3 linked regions of the Homo sapiens genome follow. The protein of the gene in region 2 interacts with the protein of the main gene of each other region in a biochemical or structural test. Each region holds a gene or a part of one and is shown on either strand. Other genes may lie near its edges.

The links. Proteins that work in one complex are often made in the same cells at the same time.
Region 1: the proteins of PROM1 (region 2) and USP11 form a complex in vitro, tested with the Homo sapiens proteins (one study listed by BioGRID).
Region 3: the proteins of PROM1 (region 2) and HK2 form a complex in vitro, tested with the Homo sapiens proteins (one study listed by BioGRID).

The regions. Positions count from the first base shown.
Region 1 is NC_000023.11:47,242,822-47,249,353, forward strand, and holds the end of USP11 (ubiquitin carboxyl-terminal hydrolase 11), read left to right. Parts: intron 1-574; coding exon 575-781; intron 782-1,676; coding exon 1,677-1,729; intron 1,730-1,860; coding exon 1,861-2,103; intron 2,104-2,194; coding exon 2,195-2,265; intron 2,266-2,548; coding exon 2,549-2,661; intron 2,662-4,250; coding exon 4,251-4,400; intron 4,401-4,482; coding exon 4,483-4,598; intron 4,599-4,789; coding exon 4,790-4,878; intron 4,879-4,971; coding exon 4,972-5,109; 3' UTR 5,110-5,507; downstream 5,508-6,532.
Region 2 is NC_000004.12:15,968,402-15,976,521, forward strand, and holds part of PROM1 (prominin-1 isoform 1 precursor), read right to left. Parts: intron 2,682-8,120; coding exon 2,666-2,681; 3' UTR 2,642-2,665; intron 968-2,641; 3' UTR 1-967. UniProt on the Homo sapiens protein: May play a role in cell differentiation, proliferation and apoptosis. Binds cholesterol in cholesterol-containing plasma membrane microdomains and may play a role in the organization of the apical plasma membrane in epithelial cells.
Region 3 is NC_000002.12:74,829,475-74,837,651, forward strand, and holds the start of HK2 (hexokinase-2), read left to right. Parts: upstream 1-4,652; 5' UTR 4,653-5,106; coding exon 5,107-5,169; intron 5,170-5,695; exon of another isoform or gene 5,696-5,864; intron 5,865-8,177. UniProt on the Homo sapiens protein: Catalyzes the phosphorylation of hexose, such as D-glucose and D-fructose, to hexose 6-phosphate (D-glucose 6-phosphate and D-fructose 6-phosphate, respectively).

The DNA.
Region 1 (6,532 bases), on a different chromosome or scaffold from region 2:
TCGTTCACTGGGCACCTGCCCTGCGCAGAGCTTCAGCCACATGCCTTGGGAGGCTGAGGCAGGAGAATCACTTGAACCCGAGAGGTTCAAGTGAGCCAAGATCACGCCACTGCACTCCAGTCTGGGCGACAGGGCAAAACTCCATCTCAAAAATAAATAAAGCCGGGCGCGGTGGCTCACGCCTGTAATCCCAGCACTTTGGGAGGCTGAAGCAGGCAGATCACGAGGTCAGGAGATGGAGACCATCCTGGCTAACACGGTGAAACCCCGTCTCTACTAAAAATACAAAAAATTAGCCGGGCGTGGTGGCAGGTGCCTGTAGTCCCAGCTACTCGGGAGGCTGAGGCAGGAGAATGGCATGAACCCGGGAGGCGGAGCTTGCAGTGAGCCGAGATCGTGCCACTGCACTGCAGCCTGGGCAACAGAGCGAGACTCCGTCTCAAAAATAAATAAATAAATAAATAAAAATAAAAATGCCTTCAGGCTGTGAGGATGAGTGGGTGGGGCAGCCAGGGCAGAGTCAGGGAGTCTCTGGGGGCCCTGATCAGGTGTGCCTGCTGTCCACCCCCCACAGCTATGAGGTGTCAGGTCGCATTGAGGCCATTGAGGGCTCAAGAGAGGACATCGTGGTTCCTGTCTACCTGCGGGAGCGCACCCCTGCCCGTGACTACAACAACTCCTACTACGGCCTGATGCTTTTTGGACACCCCCTCCTGGTATCAGTGCCCCGGGACCGCTTCACCTGGGAGGGCCTGTATAACGTCCTGATGTACCGGCTCTCGTAAGTGTCCTCTTCCCCGGGGGTGGGGGGCGGAGGGGTCTGAACTCCGACTTGGGTGTTTAGCTGCTTATTTGACACCTCCCCTGTAACAAACAAAAGACAGTCCAAACTTAACATGGCCATAGAAGAACTTGTAGGGTTTTTTCTTTCTCTAGACCTCTGGCTTTGCTACTGCCTGTCTTGGGTGCTAGGGATACAGAGGTGAACAAGATGCACAAAACAGACAACTTCATCTTGTCTTCAGTTGTCTCTCCTGGAGACTGTTGTCCCTCCTGGGAGAGTCTTGGTTTTTTTGTCTTTTTGCTGACAAATTTTCATTTTGCCTAAAATCTAGAGTCTTTACTGTGGCACACAAAGCATTGTGTTATCAGAATTCTCCCCCCTCATTTTGCATTCAAAAGTCATTCCCCAGAGGCTTTCCCTGATGGGAAGTTACAGCCGGTATGTGTCTTGTCTAGCAGTGGCTTATTAGAGTAAAAGTCCACGCTCCATACCTTTTTTTTTTTTTTTTTTTGAGATGGAGTCTTGCTCTGTTGCCCAGGCTGGAGTGTAGTGACATGATCTTGGCTCACTGCAACCTCCATCTCCCGGATTCAAGCGATTCTCCTGCCTCAGCCTCCCAAATAGCTGCAATTACAGCCGCGCGCCACCACGCCCAGCTAATCACACTCCACACCTCTGACTGGGACACAAGTTCCTTCATTCTCAGGCCACTGCTGACAGCCTTGGCCTCTTCATGCATTTACGCGTCACCCCTTCAGCCCTCTCACACCTCAGATTCAGAACGGTTTACATGTGGATCTACCAATGGCTTCCCATTATCTTAAGTAAAATCCCGGGCTCTATCCCCACTGTCCTTGTACCCGTCTTGGGAGTCTCCTCTGCTCTGTTGCAGACGCTACGTGACCAAACCCAACTCAGATGATGAGGACGATGGGGATGAGAAAGGTGAGGGGGCTAACAGTCAGTGGGCGGGGGCTCTGGGTTAGGTCTGACCCACGTAGGGTTCGTCTAGGTGTGCATTGCAGCTTAGCACTTGAGGCTCACACCTTCCCATCTCTGACATCCTCCTGTCCTAGAAGATGACGAGGAGGATAAAGATGACGTCCCTGGGCCCTCAACTGGGGGCAGCCTCCGAGACCCTGAGCCAGAGCAGGCTGGGCCCAGCTCTGGAGTCACGAACAGGTGCCCGTTCCTCCTGGACAATTGCCTTGGCACATCTCAGTGGCCCCCAAGGCGACGACGCAAGCAGCTGTTCACCCTGCAGACGGTGAACTCCAATGGGACCAGCGACCGCACAACCTCCCCTGAAGAAGTCCATGGTATTTCCTTTGGCTATCAGCGAGGGCTGGGGAGGCTGGAGGGGAGATTTCCTGGCAGCAGGATCCATGACCACCTCTCCCTCACCCCCAGCCCAGCCGTACATTGCTATCGACTGGGAGCCAGAGATGAAGAAGCGTTACTATGACGAGGTAGAGGCTGAGGTAAATGAGATCCCAGGGATGGGGGGTACTTCCAGCTCTTGCCCCTCAACTCTTCGTACATCCTCCCCACAACTCCTCTAGCTGGGAACAGAGCCAAGAGATCCAGGTCAAGCTTGGCCTTGGGGCCTGAACACCTACTGAGAGCTCCAGGGCCTGAGGTTCCTAGCTTCAAAGTCGGTGCTCTGACCCACTCAGTGTGTGTCTCCCCCGCTGGGCCCCCACTCCCCATTTCTCCATCTGTCCTCACAGCCGGCCATCTGGTTGTCTGTTCACCCAATCCTAGGGCTACGTGAAGCATGACTGCGTCGGGTACGTGATGAAGAAGGCTCCCGTGCGGCTGCAGGAGTGCATTGAGCTCTTCACCACTGTGGAGACCCTGGAGAAGGAAAACCCCTGGTGAGGGGCCAGAGCGGGGCCTGTGTGTGGGGGTTTCATTGGATGGAACTACTATATTTAGCTTTTTTTTTTTTTTTTTGAGACAGAGTCTGGCTCTGTCAACCCAGGCTGAAGTGCAGTGGTACAATCTCGGCTCAGTGCAACCTCTGCCTCCCAGGATCAAGCTGTTCTCCTGCCTAAGTCTCCTGAGTAGCTGGGATTATAGGCACCCACTACCATGCCTGGCTAATTTTTATATTTTTAGTAGAAACAGGTTTTGCCACGTTGGCCAGGCTGGTCTCGAACTCCTGACTAAAGATGATCCACCCGCCTTGGCCTTCCAAAGTGCTGGGATTACAGGCGTGAGCCACCACACCTGGCCTATATTTAGCTCTTTAAGTATACCTTCCTCCTCCCTCCTCCACACTCAAACCCTTCTTGCCAACCTGGCCACCAATCTCCTGAGCAGACTCCTACCCCAGAGCCTTGGCCTGTGCTGTTCCTTCTCCAGGAATGTTGTTCCCAGTGATCTACAGGACTTCACTCCTTACGATGCTCAGGTCTCCGATCAAATGTGACCTCATCAGAGAGACCTCCTCTGACTACCCTGTTAAAAATCACCCTTCCCCACCATCCCTCTCCATCCCCTCTCTGCTCTTTTCTTCCTAGCCAAGCATTACTTTCTAGCTCAGCGATGCCACTTGATGTGATGTCCTGTATCCACTTTTGTGTTATTTGTCATCTTCGTTAGAGTCAACTCCTCGAGGGTGAAGACTTAAGTTCACTGTGTGTTGCTTCTACCTGTTTATAATAGTGTTGAGTGTTCGGTTGATGCTCAGTAGACACTTGCAGAATAAACAAAAAGAGAACCAAAACCACACTCCCTAGTCTCAGAAATAAGAGCAGCATGTCCGTGGAGCAGAAATGGAACAGAAATACAAAATAGTTCCAAAGGGTTAAACAAGCAATCAATAAATACTGGGGAGTGAATGAATGACTAAAATACGAAGAGAGGAAACTAGAAGGATAGAGGTGGGCTCTAAAATAAGACTAGCATCTCATGGAACAGAAATCAAACAAAAATACAAAAAATAGTATGAGCACATATACAAAAGATAGTAAGCACTTGACGAGTGAGTGAAAGGATTTTAACAGGAACAGAGCAAACTAGAATACTAGATGGGCTAATAGTAAGAGCAGTGTTTCTGTGAGCCAGACATGGCACGTGAGAGGCAGTACAAAGGGCGCACAGTAGGTGCTCAGAAAAAGTCTGTTTTGGCTGGGCATTGTGGCTCATGCCTGTCATCCGAGTACCTTGGGAGGCCGACACGGGTGGATCACCTGAGGTCAGGAATTCAAGGCCAGCCTGGCCAACATGGTGAAACCCTGTCTCTATTAAAAATACACAAATTAGCAGGGCATGGTGGTGCATGCCTGTAATTCCAGCTACTCGGGAGGCTGAGGCAGGAGAATCGCTTGAACCCAGGAGGTGGAGGCTGCAGTGATCCGAGATCGCGCCACTGTACTCCAGCCTGGGCAACAGAGCGATTCTCTGTCTCAAAAAAAAAAAAAAGAAAAAGTCCGTTTGCTGACTCGGGCTCTGTCTGTAGGTACTGCCCTTCCTGCAAGCAGCACCAGCTGGCAACCAAGAAGCTGGACCTGTGGATGCTGCCGGAGATTCTCATCATCCACCTGAAACGCTTTTCCTACACCAAGTTCTCCCGAGAGAAGCTGGACACCCTCGTGGAGTTTCCTATCCGGTCAGGGGCCAGGGAGAGGATGGCTGGGGGAAGGCAGGGAAAGGAGGGGGTGTACCAGTATTAACCCTCTCCCCACCCACAGGGACCTGGACTTCTCTGAGTTTGTCATCCAGCCACAGAATGAGTCGAATCCGGAGCTGTACAAATATGACCTCATCGCGGTTTCCAACCATTATGGGGGCATGCGTGATGGACACTGTATGTGCCAGGCTGTGGGTGGGGCCTGCCCTGGGGGTTCTGGGCAGGGGGGCGATCAGGACCTTCCCAGTGAGTGACTAGGGATGTGAGCCAGTGGTGAGGTTATCGTGGTGGGAGGAGTGACAAGAGTGAATCTGGACACTTCTGAGAGGCAGGAAGGGTAGGCGAGGATAACTCTCCTTCCCTTTCAGACACAACATTTGCCTGCAACAAGGACAGCGGCCAGTGGCACTACTTTGATGACAACAGCGTCTCCCCTGTCAATGAGAATCAGATCGAGGTGTGACTTCCATCCTACCTCCTCCCCTTCTTCCTTTCTGATTCCACCTCCCCACCCCCACAATCCACACTGACTCCTGTCCTCTCCCCACAGTCCAAGGCAGCCTATGTCCTCTTCTACCAACGCCAGGACGTGGCGCGACGCCTGCTGTCCCCGGCCGGCTCATCTGGCGCCCCAGCCTCCCCTGCCTGCAGCTCCCCACCCAGCTCTGAGTTCATGGATGTTAATTGAGAGCCCTGGGTCCTGCCACAGAAAAAAAAAAAAAAAAGCCCTCTCTGCAATCTCGCTTCTCGTGTCCGCCCCGCTTCTCTTATTCGTGTTAGGTGCCCCCGCCAGGCATTGCAGGCTTAGTCGTGGCTACTGTTCTCCTGTGCCGCTGCATCGCTCTCTCCCGGGAAAGAACAGGTCGTGTCTCCTCCTAGCAGTGCGCGCCCCGCCTGTGTTTGCCCTTCCAGCAGTGACCCTCCCTTCTAGTCTTTATTTATGGTCGTGCCCTTCCCTCTCCTCAGCCCAGAGTGTTCTGCGTGGGTGGTGATGGGGGTTCACCTGAACACAGAGTGTATTTTCTTATTGAGGCCCTGTACCTTCTGCTGTGTGTGTGTATATATAAAGCACCAGTCTGCTCCCCACTCAGCAGTGTGGTTTTTTCCTCCATGGACTTAACTAAGCACCAGTTTTGTGCCTGTGTTCTGTGTTCTTATCAAAGGCCAGATGTGTGATGGGTGCAGCTCTGAGTGGTTAGTGAGCACCAGCTGTGGGCTGGGTACTGCTGTTCTAAGTGCTTTGAAAGCACCCTCTGTGTGCCAGGCACGATTCCAAGCACCAATGGCATGCCCAGTTTTTTCCAAAATATTTTCCAAATATTGATACGTAATCCTCACAACAATCTCATGCAAGAGTTGTCATCTCCAGTTTCGGATGGGGATACTGAGGTACAGAGGTCACAGAATTGCTCAGGGCTTGTCAGGAGGTCAGTATACCTCATGTGCTACCCGAGTCGGTCCCTGGAGTGGGTGCTTGGCTTGTCTGGACCCAGGACTGCTACTCAATCTGCAGACATGAGCTGCCCTACAGGCAATGTGGAAATGGAGCACGTGGGACGGATGCATCCATGTGGGCAAATTTGTGGTTTGGGGACATAAAAATACTCCTCTCAGGCCAGGTGCCACCTGTTATCTCAACACTTTGGGAGGCCAAGGCAGGAGGATCACTTGGGCCCTGGATGTTGAGGTTGCAGTGATCTATGATCGTGCCACTGCACTCCAGTCTGGGCCACAGAGCAAGACCCCATCTCAAAAAAAGGATGCTATTCCCCAGACCACCTCACAGACCCCCAGTAGTGTCCTCTGAGAAGATTTTGTCCCCCTGAGACCTCCTTTGGAGATGGTACATGCATTTGGCAGACCAGCCAACCTGCCAGGACAAATGTGCTGTCTGTGTGTGGCCCCTGTAGTCAGCCCCCTCTCCCATCATGACCCCAGCTCCCACACCAGGCAGGTTCCCTCCAACCTCACCCCAGACGACACTGAACACCTGCCGCAGGAATTTGGACATAAATAAGCCATCCAACCCTTCACACTGATGGGTGAGGGGAATCCTGATCGGTGGCAGCTGAGAGGCCATTCTCATGGCCAGGGCCTCAACACTCCCCCCA
Region 2 (8,120 bases):
GCAAATGAATATTTACCTTGTGCTTTCATGCAAATTTAGGGACCAAACTCAAAGGTTTCATCCATGCTGGACACCAGATCTAAGAATTGTGACAGGATCTTCTCATATTTCATTTTAGAACACTTGATACTAGTCTGATGATACTCATGTTAGCTGCACTCCAATTAATGTTTATCGTAATGCAACAGAAAACTCTGTTAAACTGTACACCGTAATTGGCATCTGTTAAAACAACTCCACTTTTGAACGAACAGCATTTCTCTCTCAAGATCTCTCTCTCTCTTTTGAATTTGTCAGATGGAGTTACGCAGGTTTCTCTATGATTGCTTTTGCATGCCATTTCCAAGTGGAACATGGCCAATCTTTGATAAAGTATAATAGATGAAAATCTCTGCGTGAAGAATATGCTGTAGGTTTCACACACTTTTAGTGAAAATGGATTATTTTCAACAGCACCAAGAAGTCAATGGTGACTTATTTAGCTCATTTAGAAGAAAGTCCTATAATACTCATTTGTTTAAAAAACTCTGTGGTAACAAAAGGTATATACACCGTTTACTGTACACAAAATGCATCTTTCCTGTAAACTGGTGTGTGTTCAGCACACTCCACACATGGCAATATGTTAGAATCTAGCCATCACATTTGATAGAGTTTTGATAGAAATGCATCCAATGGGAACAAACACCCCATATGTTGTAGTGTCTAAATAGAAACTCAGTGTAAAAAAGTAAAAAACAAAAATAGACAGGAAGGGAGGGAGTCATCCTTGAATAGTGATGGACCATGGACTATAACGTGATTGTGTTCATTCTTAAAGCACTACCCAGAGACCAATGGTGCCGTTGCCTTGGTGCCCGCCTGAGTCACTACGTTGCCACTGGCGTTGCTCCTGGATTTGGAAAGTCCTTGTAGACCCAGAAACTACCAAAAATCTGTGATCCTTTCCACTTTGAGTATCCTGATGCTGAAATGAAAGTTAAACACAATTTTAGAAATTGCTTTTGAATTAATAAAGAGAAAACCAGGAATGCATAATCCTAAAATGGTCCCCACCAGGAGCCTAAGAACTAAGGAAAATATAAACTCGTTCAAGAGGCACAGCAATATGTTTGTTGCAAAGCAATCTGTTAAAATATAGCAATATAGAAAAAAACTTTGTGGTTTTTGTTTATTTATCTTATTTTATTTATTTATTTTTTTGAGAGGGAGTCTCACTCTGTCGCCCAGGCTGGAGTGCAATGGCGCGATCTCAGCTCACTGCAACCTCCGTCTCCCGGGTTTAAGCCTCAGCCTCCCAAGTAGCTGGGACTACAGGCACCTGCCACCATGCCTGGCTAATTTTTATATTTTTTAGTAGAGATGGGGTTTCTCCATGTTGGCCAGGCTGGTCTCGAACTCCTAACCCCAAGTGATCTGCCCACCTCAGCTTCCCAAAGTGCTGGGATTACAGGCATGAGCTACCATGCCCAGCCAGAAAAAATTTTAAGTCCATAATACTCAAGGTACGTGGTTGGTACACAGATTTCTATATTTTTGTTTGTTTGTTTGTTTGTTTAGAGATAGGGTTTCACTACATTTTCCAAGTTGGAGTGCATGAGTGTGTTGGCTATTCACAGGTATAATCATGGTTCACTGCATCTTTGAACTCCTGGGCTCAAGCAATCCTTCTACCACAGCCTCCCACCCCAGTAGCTGGGACTACAGGCAGGTACCACCATGCCTGGCTTATTGTTTTACTCTAAAAAAACACTTTCTTTTCTTTTCTTTTTTTTTTTTTTTGTGATGGAGTCTCACTCTGTTGCCCACGCTGGAGTGCAGTGGTGTGATCTCGGCTCACTGCAACCTCTGCCTCCCAGGTTGAAGCGATTCTCCTGCCTTGGCCTCCTGAGTAGCTGAGATTACAGGCAGGATTACAGGGGCCCCCCACCACACCCGGCTAACTTTTTTTAGTAGAGACAGGGTTTCACCATGTTGGCCAGGCTGGTTTTGAGCTCCTGACCTCAAGTGATCTGCCCGCCTCGGCCTCCCATAGTGCTGGGATTACAGGCGTGAGCCACCGCACCAGCCCTTATTTTTTTACTTAAAAAATCTTATCTTTTTAAGTAAAAAAATTTTATTTTTTTAATATACACCCACATACTCACTGTGTGTGTGTATATATATATATAAATACACACACATTTATATAGCAATGCATATATATACAGAGAGGGTCACTGTATCGTATGTATACATGCAGTCGTCCCTCTGGATCCATGTGGGATTGGTTCCAGGACCGCTACACACATCCTCCTACATACTGTATATCATCTCTAGATCACTCAAAATACCTAATACAATGTAAGTGTTATGTAAGTAGCTGTTATACTGTATTGTTTTTATTATTTTTATTTTTGTACTGTTATTTAAAAAAAAATTTTTTTAGAGTATTTTTGATCCACAGTTGGTTGAATCAATCGGTGGATGTGGAACCTGCAGGTACAGAGGGTGGACTGGACATATAAAATATCTTGTCTAATATGCTGATCTAGATTTCCCACTTAATGTGGCAATGTATTAGGAATAGCTATGTTTTGATGTTCTAAAAACTAAAAACTATAGTCCTGTAGATTCTCTTCAATGAAAGCATCAAACTTACCTCAAGCAGTTTCAACATCAGCTATCAATGTTGTGATGGGCTAAAAAACAAAAAAATAAAGAAATATAATACCCCCAACAAAGCTGTGGGTGGTTTCATCACCTCTGTGCTAAGAAGCAGGCATGTGACTAAAGGTACAGACGAATATAAACCACACCTCATAAAGTTTATCAAGAAGAATGTGTCAGACAAAACACTGGTTACTCTAGCTTCTGTTTGTATTGCTTTTAAAAACAGCATAGAAGATAAAGAGGATAAACAGACTATGACAAGTAAGAATTGTGAATATTCACAATCTAAGGTTAAAAGTGTTAAGAGTCACTAAGAATACGTGTTGAAGACATTAGACCAGCAGCAACACAGCAGTACACATGTCTACCACAAGAGTCTTTCTAAAGTCCACTTCTAGGACAGAAGACAGAAGCAAATGGAAGTTCCGCAGGGACCTTGTTACAACTACAAATTCCTGGGTGTAAGATCAGGCAGTGCACACGGCCTCTAAGTGGCTCTCTGGGTGAACCATCAACAGTAGCCCTAGTGTCCTCTAAAGTGACTCTGTGATAATGGCCTTGACAACCAAAAAGGTATACGCCAGGGGGAGACTAGTGAACTCCATCTGGAAGGTCGGCAGTTTCAACTCTGGCACACCCTGCCCGACTGTGACTTCAGGTGGATCACAACCCCTCTGAACCTGCAGGATCCACCGTGCCTCACTGCAGTGCTGCATCAGACACATGAGGTTGGGGGAGGACATGCACGGAGGACATCAGGGCATCTGCCAGGCAAGACATTCCTTCTAAAGTTTTTCACTTTAGAAAGTGCACATGCTTGGTTCTGTGTGCCTCTTCTTGCACTACCTTTTATGCTTTCGGTAAAGAAACAAACTCTTTATCGAAAGGGCTCAAAGGGCCCCTGGAAAAGGGTGCAAGCAGGGGCTGGCTCAATCTCTTGTTACTGTCCACCTCACCAGGACCTGGAGCTGAACATTATGAAGGACTGTAGGCTCTGGCAATCATTTCCAAAGAACATCTACATTTGCCTTATTGAGCAGAGGGATGCTGGGCACACTAACAGGATCACTGGTTCTTCTCCTCCTGCCTAGCATTGCCTCTCCTCCAGACAGTATATCCATCCTATCCTGGAAGAGAGGGAACTCTGGAGACCTCAGAAGCAGGAAATGAGCAAAACAAGCCAATTTAAGCAGTGTCTTAGTATGTTTTCTGCTGCTATAACAGAATATCAGAGACTGGGTAACTTACAAAGAAAAAAATATGTTTTTCACAGTTCTGAAGGCCACGAAGTCCAAGAACCTGGTGCTGGCATCTGGTGAGGGCTTTCATGACGCATCATCCCATAATGGAAGGGCAAATGAGTGCAAGAGACAGACAGGGAATGGGGTCGAGCTTCCTCCTTTTATCAGGAGCCCACTCCCATGATAATGGCATTAATCCATTTATGAAGGCAGAACTCTCATGACTTAACCACCTGTCCAAGGTCTCGCCTGTTAATATAGTCACAATGGCAATTAAATCTCAACATGAGTTTTGGAGGGGACACTGAAACTATAGCAAGTAACTAAAACTAATCCTGGAAGCTCCTGATGTAAGAGAAACAAAGGGCCTTAGGTGAGACCATAACTGGAGGATACATTTCTTCAGGCCATTAGGATTTGGGCTCTGAATGATAACTTCCTGGGTGCCCAACACAATAAAGCAATAAAATAAAGAAGGCCAATACATGACATCTGAGACTCTCCTGTCTCCAGAGTAGACATCACACACTGATGACAGTACTTTTGAGTCAGTCTGGATTAAACCTCCAGATTTCAATCAACACAACACAACAGGGCTCTGAGCAGCCGGACAACAGAGAGAAGTTGGCCCAGGAGGTGGAATCTGTTTGTCAATGATGCACTATCCCCTTCACAGAAAAAGGAAGGTCCTGGCCCCCGAAGAACCTGAAACATCACACAAGGGAAGGGGCTCCAAGCACCCTCTACAAGACCTATGCAGCCAGAACCTACACAGGTGAGGGTCAGCTGCTGTTTATGTAGCATTCCCCGGGATCCACCTGCTTCCTCCTCTAGGCTGCAGAGGTGCAGCCATGCGGACCCCTCCTACTTCTATCTAAGAATCTGGCCAAGCGCAGTGGCTCATGCCTGTAATCTAGCAATTTGGGTAGATCACTTGACGTCAGGAGTTCAAGACCAGCCTGGCCAATATAGTGAAACTCCATCTCTACTAATAACAGAAAAATTAGCTGAGCACGGTGGTGTGTGCCTGTAATCCCAGCTACTCAGGAGGCTGAAGCACAAGAATCGCTTGAACCCAGGAGGTGGAGGTTGCAGTGAGCTGAGATCACACCACTGCATTCCAGCCTGTGTGACAGAGTGGAATCTGTGTCTCAAACAACAACAACAGCAAAGAATCTACAGAGCATGCACAATGAACACCATCTACAGCCGAACTAGCAAGAAGGTGGTTCACAGACATATTTTGTTGGGCCCCCATGGTGTTTTTTTCTCCACATTGTTTGCTAACATTAAAAAGGGTAATTTCATATGAAAATCAGATTTCTGTCCTTTTCAGATAGAGTTTCTAGCAACACTTGCCTCTTATTTGTTCCCCTTTCTGCCAATTTGATAGTCTTCAGAGTGAAGACTGGGAAAAATAATCAAATTTTTCTGTGGTCTTTCCACCCGTTTTGGGAACTTTTCTTTGCCCACCTGCCTTTGGGAGAATAGGAGAAATAGCTCAAATCATAGCTTGGCCCTGGCTAGCTGTAGAGACCTGGGCATGGCCTACACGTCCCTGAGTCTATCTGCAAAAGACAGACAACAAGGCGGTGACGACAGCCATAGAGGGCCGATGTGGGGACTGCGCAGGATGAGGCAGGGTGGTCATCCTGCCCGGTTCCTGGGGCTGCTGGACCAACACTGGTGTTTGTTTGCTCTCAAGCCTTTGTGGTCTCACAGGAAGCAACTTTCTCTCCTGATCTCTCATCTCAGAGCTAGAAAGAGTAAGTTTACACACACACATACAGACACACACACACAGACACACACACTCTCTCTCTTTCTCTCTCTCTCTCTCTCTCTCTCTAAAGAACTCCCTAGCAGCTGAAAGATCACAATCCGAGTGACCTCTAGTGATCCATGAAAGGCCAGGAAGAAGATTCAGAAACAAGTCACCCAATATTTCCTGAAATGAAAATGCCTCCACTTGCTCCGCAGACTGTGGGAGACAGAAGCATCGTTGGAAAAAAAAAATCCAGGCTTACGTAGGTTTATATGAAAGTCTATTAACTTTTCCTTCAAACAAAAGCAAACAGCCACAGACTGTATAATGGACTAATTACAGTGTGCGTGTGTGTGTTTAAGAAATAAATAGAAATAAAAGAAAAAGAGACCAAAAAAAACTAGTTTATGAAACTGAGTTTGCCACTCAGAAGCAGCCCACTTCATGGTTCTTATTTAAGAGAATTCTCCTGGGAAACGCTCCATGAAGCAATATTAGTTGTCAAACTGCTCCTCACTTGGTAAGTACTAGTGTCCTGGTTTGCAGAAGGCTTTTCTTTTGTTCTTACATTAAATAATTTTTTTTTTCATTTATAAACACAGGGTCTTGTTGTGTTGCCCAGGCTGGTTTTGAACTCCTGGGCTCAAGTGATCCTCTGTCCTCAGCCTCCCAAGGTGCTGGGATTAAAGGCGTGAGCCACCGCATCAGCCAGAGTCTTTTCTAGAATAGCCTAGCACCTTCTCTTTGCACTGATCATTTTCCTCCTAAACCTAGCTTTGTCCTGAAATGCAGGCAACACCTGAAAACTGTTGGCGATAAACACTGGGGGAAATCACAGTCTCAAGCTGTGTGAAGGAGGCACCAATTCGGGCTCATTTGTACAGAAGGTATCATGAGGTGTCGGCTAATATCCAGAGCCCAGTTGGTGTCATCAATGGAAGCTAAGTGGAGCTGGCTCAGCTAACAGATTAGAGCCACACTTAGTTATCTTCTGAATCACCTTTGGGTTCCTTCCATTGGAAATGTTAAGGTAATAAGAAAAGATTATGGTCATTATAGTGAACCACAAACCCTTAAGTAAGGGTTTACAGTGGTCAAAGGGTGAATGTTTTGCCTTGTTACCTCATTGAACCCTCACAACCCTACGCAAACAAGGCTCTTATTTTTATTTATTTATTGAGACGGAGTCTCACTCTGTCGTCCTGGATGGAGTGCGGTGGTGCAATCTCAGCTCACTGCAACCTCCGCCTCCCGGGTTCAAGCGATTCTCCTGCCTCAGCCTCCCAAGTAGCTGGGATTACAGGTGCCCGCCACTACGCCCAGCTAATTTTTTGTATTTTTAGTAGAGATGAGGTTTCACCATGTTGGCCAGGCTGGTCTCAAACTCCTGACCTTGTGATTTGCCTGCCTTGGCCTCCCAAAGTGCTGGGATTACAGGCGTGAGCCACCACACCCAGCCTCAAAGCTCTTATTATTCCCTCCTTCTACAAGTGAGAAAACTGAGTCTCAAGGACATTAAATAGCACTTCCACAATGACACATGGAGGCAGAGCTAGAATCCACTCCAACTCAGACCCCTGGGACCTCTAGGAGGGTCTGGGTGGAAAAGAAAGGTGTCCCAATGTCCCTAGAGTTTCTGGGATGTCATTTCCTAACCTTCTGCAAATAAACCAAATCAAAACTATGATTCTTCACTGACTGCCTGTAGACGGGCTGAACATCCAGGAGACTTGCCAGGGTTCCCACTGGAGGTGGGTGTGCAGGAATGAAAACAAGTCTCGATTTAATTGTTACCATGAAAGATGCTTCAGCGAAACTCACATAAGGTGTCACTCAGTCTTTGGGATTCTTCTCTTACTGAAACAAAACACTTCAACCCACCCTTGGAGTTCTACTATAGAACACAGAATATAGAAAGTAGAAAAAAATTCAAGTGTGCTGTGGACCGTTAAGGAAGGACGTCCAACATTAGTATATCCCTAGCCCCAGGCTTCACAGGTGTATGAAGTGCTAGGCCCTTAACAAAGACAAGTCCTTCCAATGTCTGTCGTAAGCAGAATGACCACAGAATCATCCTAAAGCTTCATTTATGTATTTAATAGAACAATGGCATTTAATCTAGTTCGAATTTCAACACTAAAAGCCCAAGATGAAATGTTCATTAGCAAGTGAGAAGAGTGGCATTTCTCAACACCGACTAGGGCTGTTTTCTAACATTTTCCTGTTTTCCATCATCATGCCTTTTTTCTTGTACAGCAAGTTAAATCCAAGAGTTATCAAGTCTTATGCTGTTCCAGCAATGTGAGTAAAAACTAGTAAATAAGGAGAGCTACGACAACCTTCTTGAGCCTAGAGAATTAAGTCTTTGACGCTACACGCAGGACATCTGTGGCACTAATAGGTGCTCGGTTATTCTCTTCTAGATGCTAGAACTGGAAGTCTACCCTCCTTTGTGGGAAAGG
Region 3 (8,177 bases), on a different chromosome or scaffold from region 2:
TCACCGTGTTAGCCAGGATGGTCTCGATCTCCTGATCTCATGATCCGCCCACCTCGGCCTCTCAAAGTGCTGGGATTACAGGCATGAGCCACTGTGCCTGGCCTATAACAATACTGATTCCAACCACCTCCCAGGATTACTGGGAACTTTGTAAGAGATAACATGTACTTAAAGTTCCTTATGATTATTATCCGGTTCACATGAAATGGGACCACAGAGGGGAGTGGAGAAGAGGCATTAAAACTAGTGTGTGAAGAAAGTATCATAGCTGACCCAACCCCACTGGCTTTGGTTCTACCTGCCTGGAGACAATACATTTTGTAGCACCAGGCTATTGAATTTCCATCCGATTCTAGGCAGCAGGCATCCTCCTCTTCATTTTCCTTCACCCACCCCAGCCAAATCCATCAGTTCCACCTCTGACTTCACAATACCTAAACCCATAACCTTCCTCCCTGCCCCACTCTCATCTTGGCTTAGGTCCTAGTCTTACCTTATAGCTTCTGCCTCTTTCTGCCTTTGGTCTCTGACCTCTTTCCCTCCCCATCCACATGGAGGGCAGTTATGGCCCTAAAAAAGCAAACGCGATTGTATAATTTCCTGCTTTGAGAATCTTGGGGCCAGGTGTGGTGCCTCATGTCTATAATCCCAGCACTTTGGGAAGCTGAGATGGGCGATCACTTGAGGTTAGGAGTTTGAGACCAGCCTGGCCAACATGTCAAAACCCTGTCTCTACTAAAAATATAAAAATTAGCTGGACATGGTGGTGAGTGCCTATAATTTCAGCTATTTGGGAGGCTGAGGCAGGAGAATCGCTTGAACCCAGGAGGCGGAGGTGGCAGTGAGCCGAGATTGTGCCACTGCACCCCAGCCTGGGCGATAGAGCAAGACCCTATCTAAAAAAAACAAAAAACAAACAACAAACAAACAAAGAATCTTTGTTAAATATCTAAGTCTATATATTTATGGTGTCTATATCTGAAGAGGGAAGCCCAGTTATGAGGCTGTTCCAGTCAGGTGAGAGATAACTGGGCATATGATCTAGGGTAGACAGAGAAATGGGAAAAGATTTGGGAAATAATATATAAAACTATAAACTCTATGTGTGTGTGTATTGTTACACAACATGTGAACAGTAGTCATCTCTAAGATTCTTCTATGAATTCATTCAATAAATGTTTATTGCATGTCTGCCATGCGTCAGGCACCATTTTAGGCACTGCAAACTTGAAGGAATGACAGACACAGACCCTGCTGTCTTTTAGCTTATCATCTATTGAGGAGAGGAAGAACATAGCGAAAATAAATAGGAAATCAACTAGGGCCAAGTGATAGTGACTTGGGGAACTATTTGAGATAAACTGGTCAAGGAAAGCCTGATGAGGTAGAAGGTGGGGACTTGACTCTGGAGGTGGGGGCTAAGACTCGGGACCAGACTCTAGATTAGAGTTCCAGATTTAACACCTAGAAGTCACTGCCCCTTTCCATGGCAATGACTCAACAACCCGTTACCAACCTTTTTCTAGAAATTTCTGTATAACCTGCCCCTTAATTTGCATGTTAACTAAAAGTGGGTAGAAATATGAGTGCAGAGCTGCCTCTGAGCTGCTACTCTGGGCACACGGCCTTATGGGGTAGCCCTGCTCTGCAAAGACCAGTGCCTCTGCTCCTGATGTACACTGCCACTTCAATATAAGCTGCTGTCTAATGCCACCTGCTTGCCCTTGAATTTTTTTTTTTTTTTGAAATGGAGTCTCTTTCTGTTGCCCAGGCTGGAGTGCAGTGGCGCGATCTCGGCTCACTGCAAGCTCCGCCTCCCGGGTTCACGCCATTCTCCTGCCTCAGCCTCCCGAGTAGCTGGGACTACAGGAGCCCGCCACCACGCCTAATTTTTTGTATTTTTTTTTTTTTTAGTAGAGATGGGGTTTCACCGTGTTAGCTAGGATGGTCTCGATCTCCTGACCTCGTGATCCGTCCACCTCAGCCTCCCAAAGTGCTGGGATTACAGGTGTGAGCCACCGCGCCCGGCATCCCTTGAATTCTTTACTGGGTGAAGCCAAAAATCTTCCCAGGCTAAGTCCAAATTTTGGGGCCTGCCTGCCCTGCATCATGAGGAGGTATCTGAGTGGAACGTCAATGAGGAGGAAGAATGAGTTGGAGACAGGCCTGGAGAAGAATATTCTAGATAGAAGGAAAAGGAAGAGCAAAGACCCTTGGGTGAGAAAGAGTTTGTATTTTTGAGGAAAGCATGCTAGTGTGAATGCCAAGCAGTATTCTGTGGGAAGATCTCAGGAGGTGTCTAAGGGCATGGAGATAAGTGGTCAGATGCACGGTCTGTTTTATAGGTGGAATTAACTGCTTGCTGATGGATTGACTGGCTGTGAGGGTGAGTGGCAAGAAGGAATCGAAGACGAGTTAGGGTGGATGGCGATGCCATTTGCTGAGACAACTGGGAAAGAAAAAGATTTGGGAAAAAAAGTTGAGTTCAGCTTTGGACATGTTAAGTGTGATATGCTAGTCACTTCAGTGGAGATGACAAATGGCAAGCTGGAGAAATAAGCCTGCAACTCCAGGAGAGGACCTCGCTGTAGATTTACTATGGTGAGTCATCAGCATGCATATGATATAACAGTCATGGGGCTAGGAAGTTAGTTTCTCCTCAGGGAGTTTGAAACTGTAACTAGTTCAGAGAAGAGGGTGGAGGGCAGCCCCGAATACCCCAGCATTTACCAATAGAGCAAACAGGGACTCAGGAGCCTGGGGAGTGAGGTTAGCCAGAAACCCTCAGAGTGGAGCACTGGTGCTCTTACTGAGAGAGGAAGGTGTGTCCAGATGGAGGATGTGATTAACTGTCCTCAACATCCCTGAGAGAAGGAGTAAGACAAGGGCAGGGAAGAGAAGAGAATGCAAGATTTGGCAACATGTAGGTCATTATGATGACTATGACAAAAGCAGTTTGAGCTCAATTCTGTGTGGAGTATAGGGAAGGAGGGTTGAGGACGTGCATTTAGAAGGGTACATAGTTCTCAAGAAGTTTTGCTGAGCACATCTGTAATCCCAGCTATTTGGGACGCTGAAGTGGGAGGACTGCTTGAGCCCAGGAGTTCAAGACCAGCCTGGGCAACATATCGAGTCCCTGCTTTAAAAAAAAAAAAAAGGAAGTTTTGCTGAGAGGCTAGATGGATTATGATTTTTGTTTATTTTTCCTGTTTATCCATATATTATTTTTCAACAATGAGTATTGATTACTTATATAATAATTTTAAGGCTGTACACATTGCAGACAGCACCCCACTGTTTGAAAAACTCCTCCTCAGTAGAACATGGCAGACCTTCATCTTCCTTCCCTGAACCTTTTCCAACCTTAGGCTTGCCATTCTCCACCAGTGCTAATGTCATGTCTCTTGAAATCTGTATTGAAGTCAGTATTTCATTCTTGCCAGTTTCCACTGTGTGTTTAAATTTGGAGTCTGGTGTCTAGCATTAGCTGGGGTTGGAGCTTCCACTCCTCTCAGCATTGGTAAGCCTCCTCACCCACCCCATCCCATGTCCAAGATCACCCAGTTACACACTTACCATCTACCCAGTTCATTCACATCATCAGTCCCAGAGCTGCAGAGATGCTCTTTTTCTACCTCCTACTTCTCTGGCTCTTAGAGAGGCAGCATGGGATAATGGGGCAAGCGAATAGGGCCTTAAAGTAGAGGGACAAGGGTTCTCTTCCCTATCTGCCACTTATTAGCTATGTGACCTCGTGTAAGTCTCTTTTCTTTTTGAGACAGGGTCTCCCTCTGTCACCTAGGCTGGAGTACAGTGGTATGATCATAGCTCACTGCAGCCTCGAACTCCTGGGCTCAAGCTATCCTTCCACCTTAGCCTTCTGAGCAGCAGGGACTACAGGCACATGCCACCATGTCCGGCTGATTTATTTATTTTTATTTGGGAAGATGGGGGTCTCACTATGTCGCCCAGGCTGGTCATGAACTCCTGGTCTCAAGCAACCCTCCAACCTTGGACTCCCAAAGTGCTGGGATTACAGGTGTGAGCCCTGGCCTTGCCTCAATTTCCTCATCTGTAAAACGGGGTTAGTGAAACTCACATCCTATCAGTGGTTTTGAGGATGGGCCGACTCTTGTATTGCCTGCTCTAGTACAATCAGCAGCTAAGGCGGCTCACTTTCCGGCCGTGCTACAATAGGTAAGAACTAGGATGCTTTAGACGTGTGACTGGGCAGTGGGAGCCCCTCACATGATCCCGAGATGCCAGACAGTGTCTCTCCGCACAGGGCGTGTGCTGGTCCAGAGGCCCGTTTTTCCAGTCGCCCCACACCCCGGGTCCGCGATCACGCTCCCCCCACCCATAGCCGAGCCTGACGCGGCGGTGGCTCATGCGCCTTTCCGTCCCAGCCTTTAGCCACGGACCACACGTCCCATCTCAGGCGCCCCGCCCCTCCCCCGCCCCCCGCCCCCGGCGCGCCTCCCCAGGCTGCCGGCTCCGGTGTCTGAGCGGCCGCGCCCGCGAGCCGTGAGCGATGATTGGCTGCGCCACGGCGGCGGGCGGTCCGTGGGCGCACACACCCTCCCCGCGCAGCCAATGGGCGTGCGCACGTCACTGATCCGGAGGCCCGCGGGCCGGCAGCCCCTCAATAAGCCACATTGTTGCATGAAACTCCGGCGCAGGAGTCCCGGGCTGCCGCTGGCAACATCGTGTCACCCAGCTAAGAAAATCCGCGGGCCCGAGCCACGCGCCTGTGAATCGGAGAGGTCCCACTGCCCGAGTGGAGCCGGGCTGAGATTCTTCTCAAGTTGAGCCTCAGTGATCCTGTGGCCGAAGTTAGCGCCTTGACGTGGGACAACCGGACACGTCGCCAGGAGAGAACTGAGGCGCCTTCTAGCAGTTGTGACGCCAAAATCACGTCTCCGGAGACCCGCGCCCTCCGCCAGCCGGGCGCACCCTCGCCGGTAGCCTTCTTTGTGCGCCGTCCGGACTCCCAGCTCCCGGCCCGGCAGCCGAGCCCCAGCACAAAGCAGTCGGACCGCGCCGCCCGCCTCCCCTCTCGCGTCTCCGCCTCGGTTTCCCAACTCTGCGCCGTCGGGCCGCGGCAGGATGATTGCCTCGCATCTGCTTGCCTACTTCTTCACGGAGCTCAACCATGACCAAGTGCAGAAGGTAAGTCAGCGCGGGCGGGGCGGCAGGCTGGGCTCTGGCAAAGTGGTCTGGCCTCCATCAGTCTCTTCCTCGACCCTGCGGGGACCCGCTTCCTCCCTACTCCGGGCCTGGGAGCGGAAAAAGTTTGGGCAGCCGGGACACTCCTGGGCGCCAGGAGCCACGTCCGCTAAGCACAGCCGGCGAGTGCGCGCGGGCGGGGAGCCGAGGTCGCGCTCCGCCGGGCGCCCTCCCTCCCTGAGCTCCGGCACGCGCTCACGCTCTCTCCCCCAGTCCCTTTTTCCCTGTTACTGGAGGGGCGGGTCACCCCGCAGGTAGTCAGGGATTGCTGCGCCCACGTGGGAGGGAGCCCCCTTCTGCAGCGCGAGTTCCGGCGAGAGCACGTGGAGAGAATCGTGGCTGCGGGAGGCTGCTCCGCTGCCGCGTGGGGCCGCCGGGGGCCGTCCGCGCTCGCGGACCGCGTGTAGGAGACGAGCGGTTCCCTTCTCCTTCCCCGCGGCCCTGCGGGGGTGGGCTCGAGGAGAAGCTGACCCGGGAAGGAGTAGGAAAGGGGCAGAGGAACTCCGCCCGCCGCGCCCCCTCCCCGGAACTGTGGCGCCCGGAACTGAGGCTCGGCGAGGGGCGTCCCCCATTAACCCCCGCCCCTCCAAATCAGCCTCGGGACCGCCCAGCCTCGTGTCCTCAGGATCTGCCTCTGAGTAAGGGGAGGACTTTGGTTGTTACTTTCTGGTTTGCCCTAAAAGTTACTCGGAGAGGCCAACGCGCCGCGTTCCTGGATTACTTGAGATTCTTGAGATTTATGTCCTTCCGAAAACGAGCTTTTTTTTCCTTAAGCCTCGACCTGTCTGTTCCCACCTGGCTCCGCAGCTCCCTATGGCTGAGCGCTCACCGCGGCCGGGTCATTTACATAAGAAAGAGCCTCAGGCCAAGCCGGGAAGCTCTCATTCCCCGCCTCGGGGTATGGGGGTGGGGATGGGGCCGGGGCCGGGGACGGGCAGGGCCAGGGGCGCGCTCAGAATTGAGTTTCTGAAATGCCCGGGATTAGGGGATTGGCTCCTGGCCCGGGCCTGGGCTACGATTTGAGGTAGGGGACAAGTTGGGAGGGGATTAGCTGGAGGGAGGTTGTTTTAAGAGCTGTGAGGCAACGGAGCGTTGCTCAGTTACATACTTGGAATTTCAATATCTGATGGGAACACATTTTTGGGAAAATGTCTTGCCATTACCGTTCTGTGCGACAACCTGCTCATATTCCCATTCTGGCGGTCCCGAGGGCATAGGAGGCATATTAATGTAGTGATGGCGCGTGAACCTCCAAGAAAAGCAGAAGTTACCCAGCCTCAAGTCTGGAGGAGCGAGCAGAGGCGGTTGATTTACTTGGGTTTTACTGTTTGTAAATGGCTGTTATTCTCTAATTCCTGGGATGTGGCTCTGCACCTTGATTCAGTTTACTTAAAAACGTGCCTTTGATTTGAGCTGGCAGGATCTTGGTAACTTCTCAACTTCTAAGAACTCTTGGGGAAGGCTATCATCTCTTGGCAAGTCCTAAAATACACAGTGGAGCGTCATTAATCTCAGGGAGTTCTCCTTTGGGTATTACCCCAGGACATTTGAATCCTTGCATAAATTTACTCTTCCTCAATCCAGAGGAGGGCACCAGGGTTGGAACCCCGTTGGAGTTATACCACTCTCAATCTTGGAATGGGGGTCATCTCTCTTCCCCCAGAGTGGAACGGGAATTAACCAGGGTATCTGGAAATGAGTTGTAATCTCTGTCTTGTGGTTTATTAACCATAGCACCCTGAGCCTCTTTGGACAGCCCGTTTCTCTTTGTGAAATGCAATAATAACAGTAGGCTTGTCCACTTTATGGAGTTGCGATTATTAAGCGCTGCAGTGTGCAACTGTCATTCCTGTAGGTTTTCTCTACCCTTGCAGCCACCTGTCAGTTTGAGAAGTGTCCCTGAAGACCCTTGGGTGTATTTCCTCTAAACTACCAATAGGGGCAGAATTGAATCAGGCCTTTAACTCAGTAATTGTCAGAACCTGGGATTTGACTCCCAGCTTAGGTGAGCGAAGCTGTTTGATTCCAGTGGCAGTTACATAGAAAGCAGAGACTCAGAGTATCTTGGAACCATCTTTCTGAGCTGCCATTGGAAAGAAGAATTAAGAGAGAAGAATGAAAATTTAGTATAACTTTAGAGTCTTTTGAAAAGACCTTTTGATTTGGACCCTTCTGAAATCCCCTTGTGATAAGATAATCTTACATATTCTGGGTTGTAGTCTGAGGACGTGGAAGGCTTGGGTTCACCTGCCCAACGAGGTCACTTGTCGTCTCCTGATGGACAAGCCCAGTGTTTTGGGGCATTAGAGATGAGAATCAGGGTTATTTCCTCACTTTTGCCAATTGGAACTCAGGAGCGACTGCAGAGCACCTACTGTGTACCTGGCACTGTTCTAAGCTCTTAGGTATGTCAGCTTATTAACATTCAAATCAGCCCCATGAGGTGAAGACTGATTGTTATTAGCATCCCTGTTTAACTGAGGCCCAGGGGTAACTTGCCCAAGGTCTCCAGCTTTTCTGTACGAGCTGGGAATCGAAGCCATGCATTTGGCTTTAGAGCACCATGCTCTTGAGCACATACTTGCCTGTCTCTGGGGAATGTGAGCGGGCTCCTGGCCCGGGCCTCTGCCCACTCCTGGCTGCTGGTAGCACCCCCACCCATCATGACCACAGATGGAACTAGCTCTTCTGTTGGTTTGATCAGTGGCACCAGTACCCTCTGGCTACTCCAGCTGAGAGTCCTGGATTCATTTTCATCAACTCTCTAACTCTGTCAACTGGTCTCTTGGTTACTTTGGAGGCCTGCTAAGGGTGTCCCTAAAACTCTTTCTGGAGCCAGACTGGATCATTTCAGGAGCTCTCTACAGCTCTTAATTGCCTCCCGCTTCTACCCCCCAGCTTAGCCTCATCTTCCTCTCCATCCTTTCATTCCTCTGTCCTGCCTGTTCACA